Regions from separate parts of the Homo sapiens genome. Here all the other regions are reported to be linked to region 1. The links are microRNA targets in miRTarBase. Many come from high-throughput screens and were not tested one by one. Region 1 holds a microRNA gene; each other region holds the end of a gene's coding sequence.
Evidence for each region. The annotated mature microRNA hsa-miR-633 reads CUAAUAGUAUCUACCACAAUAAA and lies in region 1 at 875-897, opposite strand. An mRNA with a match to its seed (bases 2 to 7 or 8) in the 3' UTR can be bound and repressed. Matches are read on the target gene's strand: a 7mer-m8 pairs with bases 2 to 8, a 7mer-A1 pairs with bases 2 to 7 and ends in A, and an 8mer does both.

Region 1 (3,091 bases):
GGTATAAGGCACCTGGAAAAGGATGGAGAGGATGTGCCCAGCAATCAATGTAACTTTGATCAAGCTATTTAACCTCTCTCTGCCGCAGTTTCCTGATTTATAAAATGGCAGCATTGTAACAAGGGCTAACAATAATAAATATATTCGGCCGGGCACAGTGGCTCACACCTGTAATCCCAGCACTTTGGGAGGCCAAGACAGGTGGATCATGAGGTTAGGAGTTCAAGACCAGCCTGGTCAACATGGTGAAACCCCGTCTCTACTAAAAATACAAAAATCATCTGGGCATGGTGGCATGTGCTTGTAGTCCCAGCTACTTGGGAGGCTGAAGCAGGAGAATTGCTTGAACCGGGGAGGTGGAGGTTGCAGTGAGCCGAGATTGCGCCACTGTACTCCAGCCTGGGCAACAGAGCAAGACTCCATCTCAAAAAAAAAAAATTAAAAATAAATAAATAAATAAATAAATTCATATTTATATGTGTAAATTTTTCCCCAAATTCAAGCATTTGGGATTTTTCACCTAATTTACTTTGGGGAAGTTGCAAACTATATTAACTGTTTATTAAATATGTATCTAGCTCTCTATAAGAAGACTTGCCGAGTGGTATTGGAGGCATATTTAAATTTATAAGTGCAGCTTTATGTAAGCCAACTCAATGAAAATACAGAAGTAAAAGAAAGATCAGATAGTGATAATCTGCTGCCACAAAAGACTCAGAATAAGATTCTTTTAATTAGACATTCCTCCTGGTGAATATAAGCCAATTTACTTTGGAGAAATTAGACTTACATAAATTTCAAAAATAAAGATAGCTAACTTTTATTTTTTTCATACTGCATCCTAATTAATATTTTTTTTTATCCTCACAACAATTTTATTGTGGTAGATACTATTAGCCTTCTCATTTTAGGTTAATAGTATCTACCGCAATAAAGAAACAGAGGCTAAGAGAGGTTGAGTAGCATAACCAAAACCATTAATCAGGTAAGCAATAAGCCAGGACTCAAACCCAGTCCTCTCTGACTACAACCAAGAGCTGTTGTTATATATAGAGCCATGTACTCTGATTGTATATAAAGCTGTGGTTAAATCAATTTAATGATCAAAATAATCATCTGGTCTGATTTATGTGGAAATTATTGACCCTTCACTATTGCTTTCATATTCCTCTTCCTCTTTAGCATTCTCAGTTAATTTCTAGGTTCTGTTTGTAATCTGCACGTGAGGTCCCATTATTTCCCTGTCCATCTTCCCTTCCTCTCGTTATATTGCTCTATTCAGCACACAAATTGGACATGTTCAGTAAACAAGGCAGGCCTTGGCTTAAAACAGCAAAATTTGTGATATCTTCAGAAGAGCTTTCTTCAAACCCATTCCTGACCTGTGCTTGTGGAGCCAGGACTGCTGAAATTACTGTTGCTCAGCCCAGCAGCCCGTCAATACAGAAACTTTACAGAGGAAAGCAAATGCACATTCATGATGAGATGGGTTGGTGGTGCTGGAGGAATTTGCTGTGTGGGAATGGAGATGTGAAGAGTTGTTTGTTCTTCATAAGAGAGCGTGGCTGTGCTTCTCCCAGGAAATGGAAAGGATGCCAGCTGAGCACAGGCACCTCTAGCACTGGAGCAGTCAAGTACATAGGAGAATGAGCACAGCAGGATTCCTCATAAGATGGAGCTATGTTTGAACGAGGGCACTTCTGGACTCCTCAGACCCACGTAGGCTATCTAGGCCAGGGATAGTGTCTGCTCATGGTTATTTGCCTGAATAGTGACCAAAAGTTTTGAGAAGAACCTTGCCGAAGGACAGAACTTTAAATTAATTTAACATGCAGATTTTTTGAATGGTTGGACTGTATTTATCTTTTCATGGTGGCAAGGCACCTCAATAATCAGGATGCATTGTGTTCAGGATCTAATTTCCCAAATGTCAGCATGCAATACATTTCAAAAGTCATTCACTTTGCAATGTATTTTTCCCATTACACTCATATGGCAGAAATTATTGCAAATAATAGCCTAGGAAGTTGCGATCGTCATTATATCAGCTAAGGGGTCTGACTGGGCTGTTGACAGTGAAGGTTATTTCTACTGAAAAGAGAAAGAGAATTCCACACTAGTTCAAAAATAAACATATTTGATGTCTTCTATCAACTGCTCCTCCACCTCTCTCTAGCTTCATACTTTCCCTTGATTCCTCAAGCCTGTCTATTTATAGATGCCTGAATGTATAATAACTTACTATTTTGCCTCCGTGTATTGCATGTAATTCTCACTGCTTAGAAAAATCTATGCCCCTTCTTTTCTGTATATTTCCATCTAATCTTTAAAGCCAAAATTTACCTTTTTTCAGATGCCTTCCTTATAATAAACACATCCCAAGTGTAATCATTTTTTCTTTTTCTTTTCCTTATCTATTGCAGCTTTAGTCTACACTACACCATATTTCTTGACGTTACTAAAATGTTTCTTTGGATTTTACCTCAAGTTGGTTTATGGGTGTGTGTTTTAGCCTCCAATTAGATTTTTTTCTCTGGAAAGCTCAAGGGCTGTGTCTTTTATTTCTTTAACATCCAGAATAGTACAATGACTCATATTAGAATGAAATAAATGACATACCTGTGATATACTCTCACCAGCCTTATACATTTGACAAGGATACCAAGAAAGATTTTATTAAAGAGGCATCAAATCAATTTCAAAAGGTTAAAGATGAAATATGAACATCCAATCTGTCCTTCATGGATTTTTCATCCAAGACCTTATTAAAGCTTTTCTTGTTTATATTTATATTAGTTTCCTTTATCAAATCTCAGAATAACAATTAACAAATTGATGGAAGATTCTGTCTTAGAAAACAACAAGGTCAGTCACTCATTACCAATTTATTCTTCAACAAATTTAATTATCCCATAAACATTTATTGAGCATATACTATAGAGACAGCCTATAGCAGACATAGAAAGGACATTAAATATACAATCTATTTGAGAAACCAAGACACACAACATGAAATAAAAACAAAAAGAGAACAGAAACTTAAAAGTTCTAAATAAGTGACCCAGACAACATGGTGCTGAGTTAGAGAGGT
Region 2 (3,091 bases), not on the chromosome of region 1:
TTGACACCTCGCTGATGCTCCAGGGTGGCGGCATGCGTGGGGTGGGGTTGGCCTAGAGGAGCAGGTCCCAGCTACACCAGGCGGCTCTGGTGTCTCTGCTGCATGGAGGACGCTCGCCCTTGCCGAGCACCCTGACCTGGCCTTCAAGGTGGGTGAGTTGCCTGCTTGCCTGGGCTGATGCTGCCTCCCGCAGGTGCAAGCGGTTCAGGGTGCCAGTGGAGAAGATCTACAGCAAAACACAGCGGGAGAGGTTCGCCTGGGCTCTCGCCATGGCAGGAGAAGACTTTGAATTCTAACGACGAGCCGTGTTGAAACTTCTTTTGTATGTGTGTGTGTTTTTTTCACTATTAAAGCAGTACTGGGGAATTTTGTACAATAAAATGTGTGCAAGTGCTTGTACATCACTAGAAAAAGTCCCCAGGCCGGCCGGGCACGGTGGCTCACACCTGTAATCCCAGCACTTTGGGAGGCTGAGGCGGGCGGATCACAAGGTCAGGAGATCGAGACCATCCTGGCTAACACGGTGAAACCCCATCTCTACTAAAAATACAAAAAACTTAGCCGGGCGTGGTGGCGGGCGCCTGTAGTCCCAGCTACTCGGGAGGCTGAGGCAGGAGAATGGCGTGAACCCGGGAGGCGGAGCTTGCAGTGAGCCGAGATCGTGCCCCTGCACTCCAGCCTGGGCGACAGAGTGAGACTGTCTCAAAAAAAAAAAAAAAAGAAAAAGAAAAAGTCCCTAGGCCAGGCACAGTGGCTCATACCTGTGATCTTGGCATGTTAGAGGCCTGAGGCTGGAGGATTGCTTGAGCAGACATTGAGGCTGCAATGAGCTGTGATTGCGCCCCTGCACTCCAGCCTGGGCAACAGAGCAAGACCCCATCTCAAAGAGAAAGAAAAGTCCCTGACGCCTGCCGTGTCCTTTGAAGCCTCCACCCCGAGCATGGAGTCTGCTGGGCTGTCACATCCAATCAGCGTCCCAGCCTGGACCCCCGGTTCCCGCTCGACAGGGGAGGAGAAACACCTTCGTGTGCTCTGAGGCTGAGGACTTTGGGTGAGGATTCCACATTTGCGCACGCGCCACCCTCTCAGCGGGGCCCGGACTCTTCACCAAGTTCTTTAGCGCCTGGAATTCAGCAAGGGCACAGTTGCTGCCTGGTCACTAAGCCCAGCGGCCCCCGTTCAGTTCTCATCACCTCCACACTCTCCATACGTAGCTCTTAGCTCTTACGATGGCCTTCTGCCTGAGCTTCCCAACCCTGTATCCTCTCAGAGCTGCCTGTCGGCTGCCCTCTGCCACGCGGGATCCTCTGCCGCCCTCTCTGCCACGCGGGACCCTCTGCCGCCCTCTTCTCTGCCACGCGGGACCCTCTGCCGCCCTCTTCTCTGCCACGCAGGACCCTCTGCTGCCCTCTTCTCTGCCACGCGGGACCCTCTGCCACCCTCTCTGCCACGCAGGACCCTCTGCCGCCCTCTTCTCTGCCACACGGGACCCTCTGCTGCCCTCCTCTGCCACGCGGGACCCTCTGCTGCCCTCTTCTCTGCTATGCGGGACCCTCTGCCGCCCTCTTCTCTGCCACGTGGGACCCTCTGCTGCCCTCTTCTCTGCCACGTGGGACCCTCTGCCGCCCTCTCTGCCACACGGGACCCTCTGCCGCCCTCTCCTCTGCCACGTGGGATCCTCTGCTGCCCTCTTCTCTGCCACGTGGGATCCTCTGCCATGCGGGACCCTCTGCCGCCCTCTCCTCTGCCGCCCTCTCCTCTGCCGCCCTCTTCTCTGCCACGCGGGACCCTCTGCCGCCCTCTCCTCTGCCACGCGGGAACCTCTGCCGCCCTCTCCTCTGCCACGCGGGACCCTCTGCCGCCCTCTCCTCTGCCACGCGGGACCCTCTGCCGCCCTCTCCTCTGCCACGCGGGACCCTCTGCCGCCCTCTCTGCCACGCAGGACCCTCTGCCGCCCTCTTCTCTGCCACGCGGGACCCTCTGCTGCCCTCTCCTCTGCCGCCCTCTTCTCTGCCGCGCGGGACCCTCTGCCGCCCTCTCCTCTGCCACGCGGGACCCTCTGCCGCCCTCTCCTCTGCCACGCGGGACCCTCTGCCACCCTCTCTGCCACGCAGGACCCTCTGCCGCCCTCTTCTCTGCCACACGGGACCCTCTGCTGCCCTCTCCTCTGCCACGCGGGACCCTCTGCTGCCCTCTCTGCCACGCGGGACCCTCTGCCGCCCTCTCCTCTGCCACGCGGGACCCTCTGCCGCCCTCTGCTATGCGGGACCCTCTGCTGCCCTCTCTTCTGCCACGCGGGACCCTCTGCCGCCCTCTCTGCCACGCAGGACCCTCTGCTGCCCTCTTCTCTGCCACCCTCTTCTCTGCCACGTGGGACCCTCTGCTGCCCTTTCCTCTGCTACGCAGGGCCCTCTGCCGCCCTCTCTGCCACACGGGACCCTCTGCCGCCCTCTCCTCTGCCACGTGGGATCCTCTGCTGCCCTCTTCTCTGCCACGTGGGATCCTCTGCCACGCGGGACCCTCTGCCGCCCTCTTCTCTGCCACGTGGGACCCTCTGCTGCCCTCTGCCACACGGGACCCTCTGCCGCCCTCTCCTCTGCTACGTGGGATCCTCTGCTGCCCTCTCCTCTGCCACGTGGGATCCTCTGCCATCTGCTCCGCGCTTTGCTTTCGGGGCTGCCTCTGTGGCTGTCTCCCTCACACCGGGGCTCCCGCCAACCCCATGAGGCAGCCCCTGTGTAAGGCTCCTGGTCAGCCAAGAGGACCCCAGCGCCCTGGAGGCTGCACCCCCATCCCTCCTGCTGTGGGGCCCTTGGTGCTCCAGGCCCGAGTCTCTCACACCGCGGCTCACCCGCTGCCCCAAGGGGCTCCGGCAGCAGGTCCAGCTCCTCCCGGGGCCTGTGACAGAACAGTTCCAGCAGGGGGCTCTCACGTCCCCACCTGCTCCCAGAGAGGTGCTTCTGTGCCCAGACATGGAACAGCTCCACAGAAAATGAGGGCACTGGCCGAGCAGGCCCAGACTCCAGAAGGGAAACCACTGAGGGTGCAGGCCCGACCCACATCACCTCGGAGTCTGTCCTCGCGGAGACGG
Region 3 (3,091 bases), not on the chromosome of region 1:
AGTGAGAATCCTCAAAAAAAAAAAAAATTAAAAAAAAAAAAAAGTACTTGCCTAGAGTGTTTGTTTGATAGCAGTTAACACATACTCAGCTTGGTCATTTTGAGTAATGACTTTTTTTTTTTTTTTTTGAGATGGAGTTTCTCTCTTGTTGCCCAGGCTGGAGTGCAGTGGCGCGATCTTGGCTCACTGCAACCTCCGCCTCCCGGGTTCAAGCAATTCTCCTGCCTCAGCCTCCAGAGTAGCTGGGATTACAGGTGCACACCACCACGCCCGGCTAATTTTTTGCATTTTTAGTAGAGACGAGGTTTCACCATGGCCAGGCCAGGCTGGTCTTGAACTTCTGACCTCAGGTGATCTGCCCACCTCGGCCTCCCAGAGTGCTGGGATTTTAGGCGTGAGCCACTGCGCCCGGCCGAGTAATGACTTCTTAAAAATAAGAGGTACAGTTGTTTAACTTAATCAGGTTTCTTATGTGCAGAGTCAGATTCTTAGGGGAGAGAAAGAGTAAATAATTAGGCCTTGTCTACTAGCTTGAGGGAGCCAGGAGTTACCTGTTCCAGGCAGGAATCCTGAGAGAATGTACAGCTGTGGAAATTGGGTGAAATTCTAACAAGGAGACGGGATAATAACTTCCCCTCTTTTTTCCACTTCTGCTTTCCTACTCCCAACCAAGAGCTGGGATGTTTGTGTCTAAGTTCTTTGGGGGCTATGTGCCTGAGATGGTGCTCACCCCTGATGATCAGCGCCTGCTGGCCCATGTCACCCTGGAGCTCCAGCACTATCACCAGCTACTTGAGAAGGTTCGGTAAGTAACTGACACCTCTGTCTTTTCTGCTGGCATGTTGAGAGCCTCCTTGTATTGGTCTCTGTAGGACATTACACCTTGGCCTGCTTCCTCCCTTCCCAGGATCCGGGATGCCTTGCGCAGTATCCTCACCATATCTCGACATGGCAACCAATATATTCAGGTGAATGAGCCCTGGAAGCGGATTAAAGGCAGTGAGGCTGACAGGTAGGTAAGCGGGGAGGGTTGGCTAAAGGCATAAAGTGGCTTGTAAGCTGTATCCTCCTGGAGGTCTTGACTAATGTCTCCTCTTCCTCAGGCAACGGGCAGGAACAGTGACTGGCTTGGCAGTGAATATAGCTGCCTTGCTCTCTGTCATGCTTCAGCCTTACATGCCCACGGTTAGTGCCACAATCCAGGCCCAGCTGCAGCTCCCACCTCCAGCCTGCAGTATCCTGCTGACAAACTTCCTGTGTACCTTACCAGCAGGACACCAGATTGGCACAGTAGGTGGAAGAGCCAGCCTCTCTTAAAATTGATACTCTTGCCATGCAGCTTTTGGAGTGGGTGAGAGAAGACCTAACATCTCTCCAGTGTTACTTTGGTCATGGGACTCCTAAGTTTCTGATATAAAGTCCTTGGTAGTCGTTCACAAGTCCGGAATTATCTGTACATCTTCATTGTTCTTCATGCCAGAAACCAGAACCTGGCACACAAAACTAACTGGTAAACAGATATTTGAAGAAACACTGTGATCACCTAGTCTCCATAATGCTAGCAGATAGTGGGCAGGGAAAATACAGGAAAGCCATTTCCTCTTTGACACAAAATGAAAAAGTAAGTACATTGCTAAACTTCTGGATCAGCCTAGCATCCTTAGAGAGCTTAAAGAATCTTTGACCCTACAAATTATTTGGGGTTTCACAGGGAAAGCTACAGCTAATTTCCTAAAATCAGCAGATATTAGCTCAGTGTTAAGCTCGTTCTTTCTAAAACACATCAGAGATTGGGGTTGGAGAGGTCATCTGTATAGTCTATGGTAGAGTCTGTATCCAATCAGTAGATGATTCTGGAACTCTTTTTTTACAGGTCAGTCCCTTGTTCCAAAAATTGGAAAATGACCAGATTGAAAGTTTAAGGCAGCGCTTTGGAGGGGGCCAGGTGAGAAAGCTAAAGGCTGTGCCCTCGCTCCACAACAGCCACAGCATCACTTCCCTAATTTCCCTAAGTAGTCCTCACCCATCACTCTTTCCATCTTTTGGCCCTGCCGCTTCCTCACTTACAGTTTTTCTTTCCTGTCTTAACTAGAAGAGACCTTCGACTTAAAGGTAACCACTTTCCCTCTGAGATGCTGTATAAAACTGGAGGTTAGGGGATATTTATGGTTGCTGGTGATAACTTTGTTGTTCTCCAGGCAAAAACGTCCCCGAAGCCAGCAGTTGTAGAGACTGTTACAACAGCCAAGCCACAGCAGATACAAGCGCTGATGGATGAAGTGACAAAACAAGTATGAAGCTTAAGCCCTGTGGGAGACTGGACAAGCTGAATCCTAAATAGATCTTTTTCTTGCCTCACTGTTACCTCCCCACCCCCCTTTATCTTAGGGAAACATTGTCCGAGAACTGAAAGCACAAAAGGCAGACAAGAACGAGGTTGCTGCGGAGGTGGCGAAACTCTTGGATCTAAAGAAACAGTTGGCTGTAGCTGAGGGGAAACCCCCTGAAGCCCCTAAAGGCAAGAAGAAAAAGTAAAAGACCTTGGCTCATAGAAAGTCACTTTAATAGATAGGGACAGTAATAAATAAATGTACAATCTCTATATACAAGCTGAGACCTTTCCTTTTGTCTACTCCAAGCCTTCCCCCTGCGTATGTGGGATTGAGGGTCACATCATTGGCACTAGTGAGAGGGTAGTCAGTAGCCACTTCTGGGAAAGGTGGGTAGTGTGGCCCAAGTGGGGGACTGATGCTCCCAATTGTTCATGCTTGGTGCAGATTCACCATTCGGTCAATCAGAGCTCGGCGAGTCGCCTCTACTTCCCTGGTCAGGCGCTCGATTTCCTGCTTGAGCCGTTCATTCTCTTCAGCTAGCTGTGCCACTTTCCTTTCATTCTCCTGTTCTTTCTCCTTCATGCGCTGCTTTCCAGCCCGGGCTGGGGAATGACCACTCTGTTTCCGTTTCCTGGTTCTCCCTTGGTCTTCCTCCTCTTCCTCCTGAGCCAGGGAGCTCTGACTGGAATCTGGAGAGTGAGGGCTCTGGGAGGTGCTTGTGACCTCTGCTGGTTCTGGCTCCTCCTCAGTCAGCCAAG
Region 4 (3,091 bases), not on the chromosome of region 1:
TGAGACCCAGGAGGGGAGGGAGGGACACTGTGTCAATCAAGAGAAATGTCTCTCTCTTGTACTTGATACGTGAGCTCTGTTAAAGAAAATAATTTAATCTTAATTGTTGGAAGCCTTCTGCCTCTCTCTCGAATGAAAGTATTCTTGCCATAAATTGCTGACTTCACGGTTAGGTAAAGATGGATAGATAAAGAGAAGCTTAAACAGTGGCATTTTACTACAAAGGCCTTCTATTTAATTTTTTTAATGTGTTTCTTTTAGATTACAGCCCAAATTAAATTCCTGTACGAGGAACTTGGACTTGACAGCACCAGTGTTTTCGAGGATCTTAAGAAATACCTGAAATTCTGAAACACTGCATTCAACTGGGAATTGGAAACACACTGAAATATTTCATAGTCTTACTTCCAATTGAGTTAGCAAAAAAAAAATTAATAACTTGAGACTTTTAAGTTATTAATTTTTTAAAATGTGCTTCTCCATCTAAATTTTGCTTAGTCTACATCTCACTTGCTTATACTATTCTCTCCATTGATGCACATGCCCATTAACCTAGGAAAGTAATTTTCAAATCATGCTCCTTAGAAGGATGTGGAGTAGAGGGAAGGGAAGGATTGGTGATAGCAGAGCTCCAGGCCTCCCTTCCAGTCAGAACAGTTGAGCAGTTTACAAATTAGTGTCCTGCCTCTTTGCTAGCAAATGCTTTTAGACACTGTGGCAGTGAGTCATCCTCTAATTTCTATGACTGCATTTTAAGGGAAAAGATAAAATTCTTCCCCTTAAAATTCGTTAAAGTTTTTGAATAATCTGGGGTCCTAATGTGTTCTGGTCATCCCTGATTGATGCTATCTGAATAAAGTTATAAGCTCCTATAAGCCATAATTTACTTTTAAACATTTTATTTTTTTCAAAACATTTGAGAACCTTTCTTAAAGCAGTTACATTCAAGCTACAGAAATATCGAAGAATTAATGATTGTTCACCAAGCAGCATGCTGTACATGAAGCTATTACAAATGCTTACAATCCCACTGAAATGCCAGTGTCTTCATCTCTTCATAAAGGTGCCTAACACGAGGTATACAGTATGTTCAGTACACTGGAATAGCATGCTCGATTGGAAACAAAGCATCTATCTCTGAAAGCTGTTTGGCGATGAAGGAGATTCTTCGTGTTGTGTTCAAAGATGAGTCCCTCTCCCTTGTCCAGAAAAATGCCACTTGTATCAACTTTACTGCCTTTGTCGGCAGAATTGGTACTTAACCTTATTCTCATTTTAGCGGGAAGGCCCGAAATCATATTATGTAGATTTAACAGTGTTGATTCTCCAAAATTCAGAACCACGATAAAGATTCTGTCGATGCCATCCAGCTCTCTTGTGTACACAACATAGTGGCTGTCATTCCTCAAATGGCAAAACCAGCCCCTGTTGAGGAGTAGCTCATTGGCATGAAGTAGACTTAAATCTTGATATAACTTCAAAGCCGATCTGGGCTGAGTCTTTTGGACCTATTTTTTTAAAAAAGTATTTACGTAAGTGTTTGATTCTAAGAATTGTTTGTAAGTATTTTTAATATATTGTAAGGAGTTATTTACCCAAAACACTTGCTCCAATTTTGCCCCTTATAATTGCCAAATTGTAAGCATCAATAAGTAGGTAAGAACAATTTATATAAAAACTGATAGAAATGACAAATTCGGGGTTTCGGCTTGTCTGGGAGTCAATAAGTACGCACAGTGCTCTGCTACATTGTAGAGTTTCTGTAGAGATCAAATTTGACTCCACTTTAGGAGTCCCAAAGCAAATGTCCATGTCTAAGATGAATATTTAACTTGCATAGTCATTCTGTGCTATATTGTAACTGCCAGATGGCCAGAAAGAAGGCAACAGTGGACTCAGACTTCTGAGGAATTTGGGTTTGTTCCCCTTTGTAGACTAATGTGTAGGTTGCTGTTGTGCGAAGATCGTGTAACTTTAGCAGACATGTATTTCTTGCACAGCTAATAGAAGACAAAGTTGAAAAAAAGGATGCAAAATAAAAAGCTGCCTAAGGTGAAAGTTAGAAATTGTAGACTTTTTTTTACCATAATAGTATGTGTTCATTAAAGATGATTTGGGTTTATTTTACAGCTATATAAAACATAATTTGATGATGTACTTCTAACCTTTCAAGCATTTTCTGTTATTGACTATATAATATAGCCTCCATAAATGTTTTTAATGACAATATTCTGTTGAACGGTTGTACCATACTCAGCCATGCCCTTTCATTTTGACGATAGTGTTTCTAATATTTTGTATTTTTATTCCCCTCCCCCCATTTTTGTATTACTTAAGATAGATTATCAGAAAGACAGTTACTTTGTCAAAGAGTATGGGCACTTGATACATAATGCCAAATTATTCTTCATAAGAGCTGTTGCCAAATCAGTGATAATGTTCATTTAATTGTATTCTTGCCAGCCATGTTTACTGGGGTGATAGTTGTTATTGTGGTTGTTATTGTTCTTTAGGGGTAGGTTCCCAATATGTGGTCTTTAAATAATTATCTAATGGTGTTTAAAAAGATGTTTATTCTGTTTGTCAGGTACAAAGATATTTATGATACATGTATGACTTGTCTAAGTTATTAACATTTTCTCTAGCCTTAGGTAATGCATGAAAGCACATGTTTCAGTGCCACTCACATAAGAAGTGCCCGGTAAGTGTTAGCTATTATTGTCTACTTGAGTTACTACTTTCTAAAAGTATGTTGAAGTCTTTTTCTGTAATTGCAGATTTGTTGATTTTGCATTTGAGTATTTTCTATATTTTGAAGCTGTTAGATGCGTAGTCATGATTTTTGGTGGAATGTTTTATCAATTTTTGAAAATTGCCTTTGTCTCATATAATGCTTTTCATATTGAACTATATTTTGTCTGCTATTAAATACTTCCAAGCCTGATTTTTGTAATTTTATTTTTTATTCAATTACAAGAATACATACTATAAAAAGGTTTTCTTCAACACCTTTCCATAGCTTCACAGTTCCCCTCAGAGACAGGCACTATATGTTCTTTTGTTTTTAATGTATCATATGTTTGCATAGGCA

Region 2: miRTarBase lists TOP1MT as a target of hsa-miR-633. Seed matches in the 3' UTR shown: 8mer at 344-351.
Region 3: miRTarBase lists DDIT3 as a target of hsa-miR-633. Seed matches in the 3' UTR shown: 7mer-A1 at 2,562-2,568.
Region 4: the mRNA of PREPL is a reported target of hsa-miR-633. Seed matches in the 3' UTR shown: 7mer-A1 at 2,922-2,928.

What each region holds. Positions count from the first base shown.
Region 1 is chr17:62,942,081-62,945,171 of GRCh38, reverse strand. MIR633 (microRNA 633) reads right to left here and starts at 957; the gene lies at 860-957.
Region 2 is chr8:143,306,646-143,309,736 of GRCh38, reverse strand. TOP1MT (DNA topoisomerase I mitochondrial) reads left to right here. Exons shown (of 14, transcript NM_052963.3): 14 at 194-413. The coding sequence ends at 296. Among named protein-coding and RNA genes, the nearest start is that of ZNF696, 17 kb to the right of the region's middle. RefSeq lists enhancers at 1,430-1,930, 1,931-2,431.
Region 3 is chr12:57,514,047-57,517,137 of GRCh38, forward strand. It overlaps DDIT3 (DNA damage inducible transcript 3), which reads right to left. Exons shown (of 4, transcript NM_004083.6): 4 at 2,547-3,091. The coding sequence ends at 2,763. MARS1 (methionyl-tRNA synthetase 1) reads left to right here. Exons shown (of 21, transcript NM_004990.4): 16 at 674-805; 17 at 908-1,012; 18 at 1,104-1,290; 19 at 1,874-1,945; 20 at 2,199-2,291; 21 at 2,389-2,606. The coding sequence ends at 2,535. Among named protein-coding and RNA genes, the nearest start is that of MIR6758, 2.9 kb to the left of the region's middle.
Region 4 is chr2:44,318,616-44,321,706 of GRCh38, reverse strand. PREPL (prolyl endopeptidase like) reads left to right here. Exons shown (of 14, transcript NM_001171613.2): 14 at 262-3,091. The coding sequence ends at 351. It overlaps SLC3A1 (solute carrier family 3 member 1), which reads right to left. Exons shown (of 10, transcript NM_000341.4): 10 at 213-1,508. The coding sequence ends at 1,068. Among named protein-coding and RNA genes, the nearest start is that of PREPL, 41 kb to the left of the region's middle.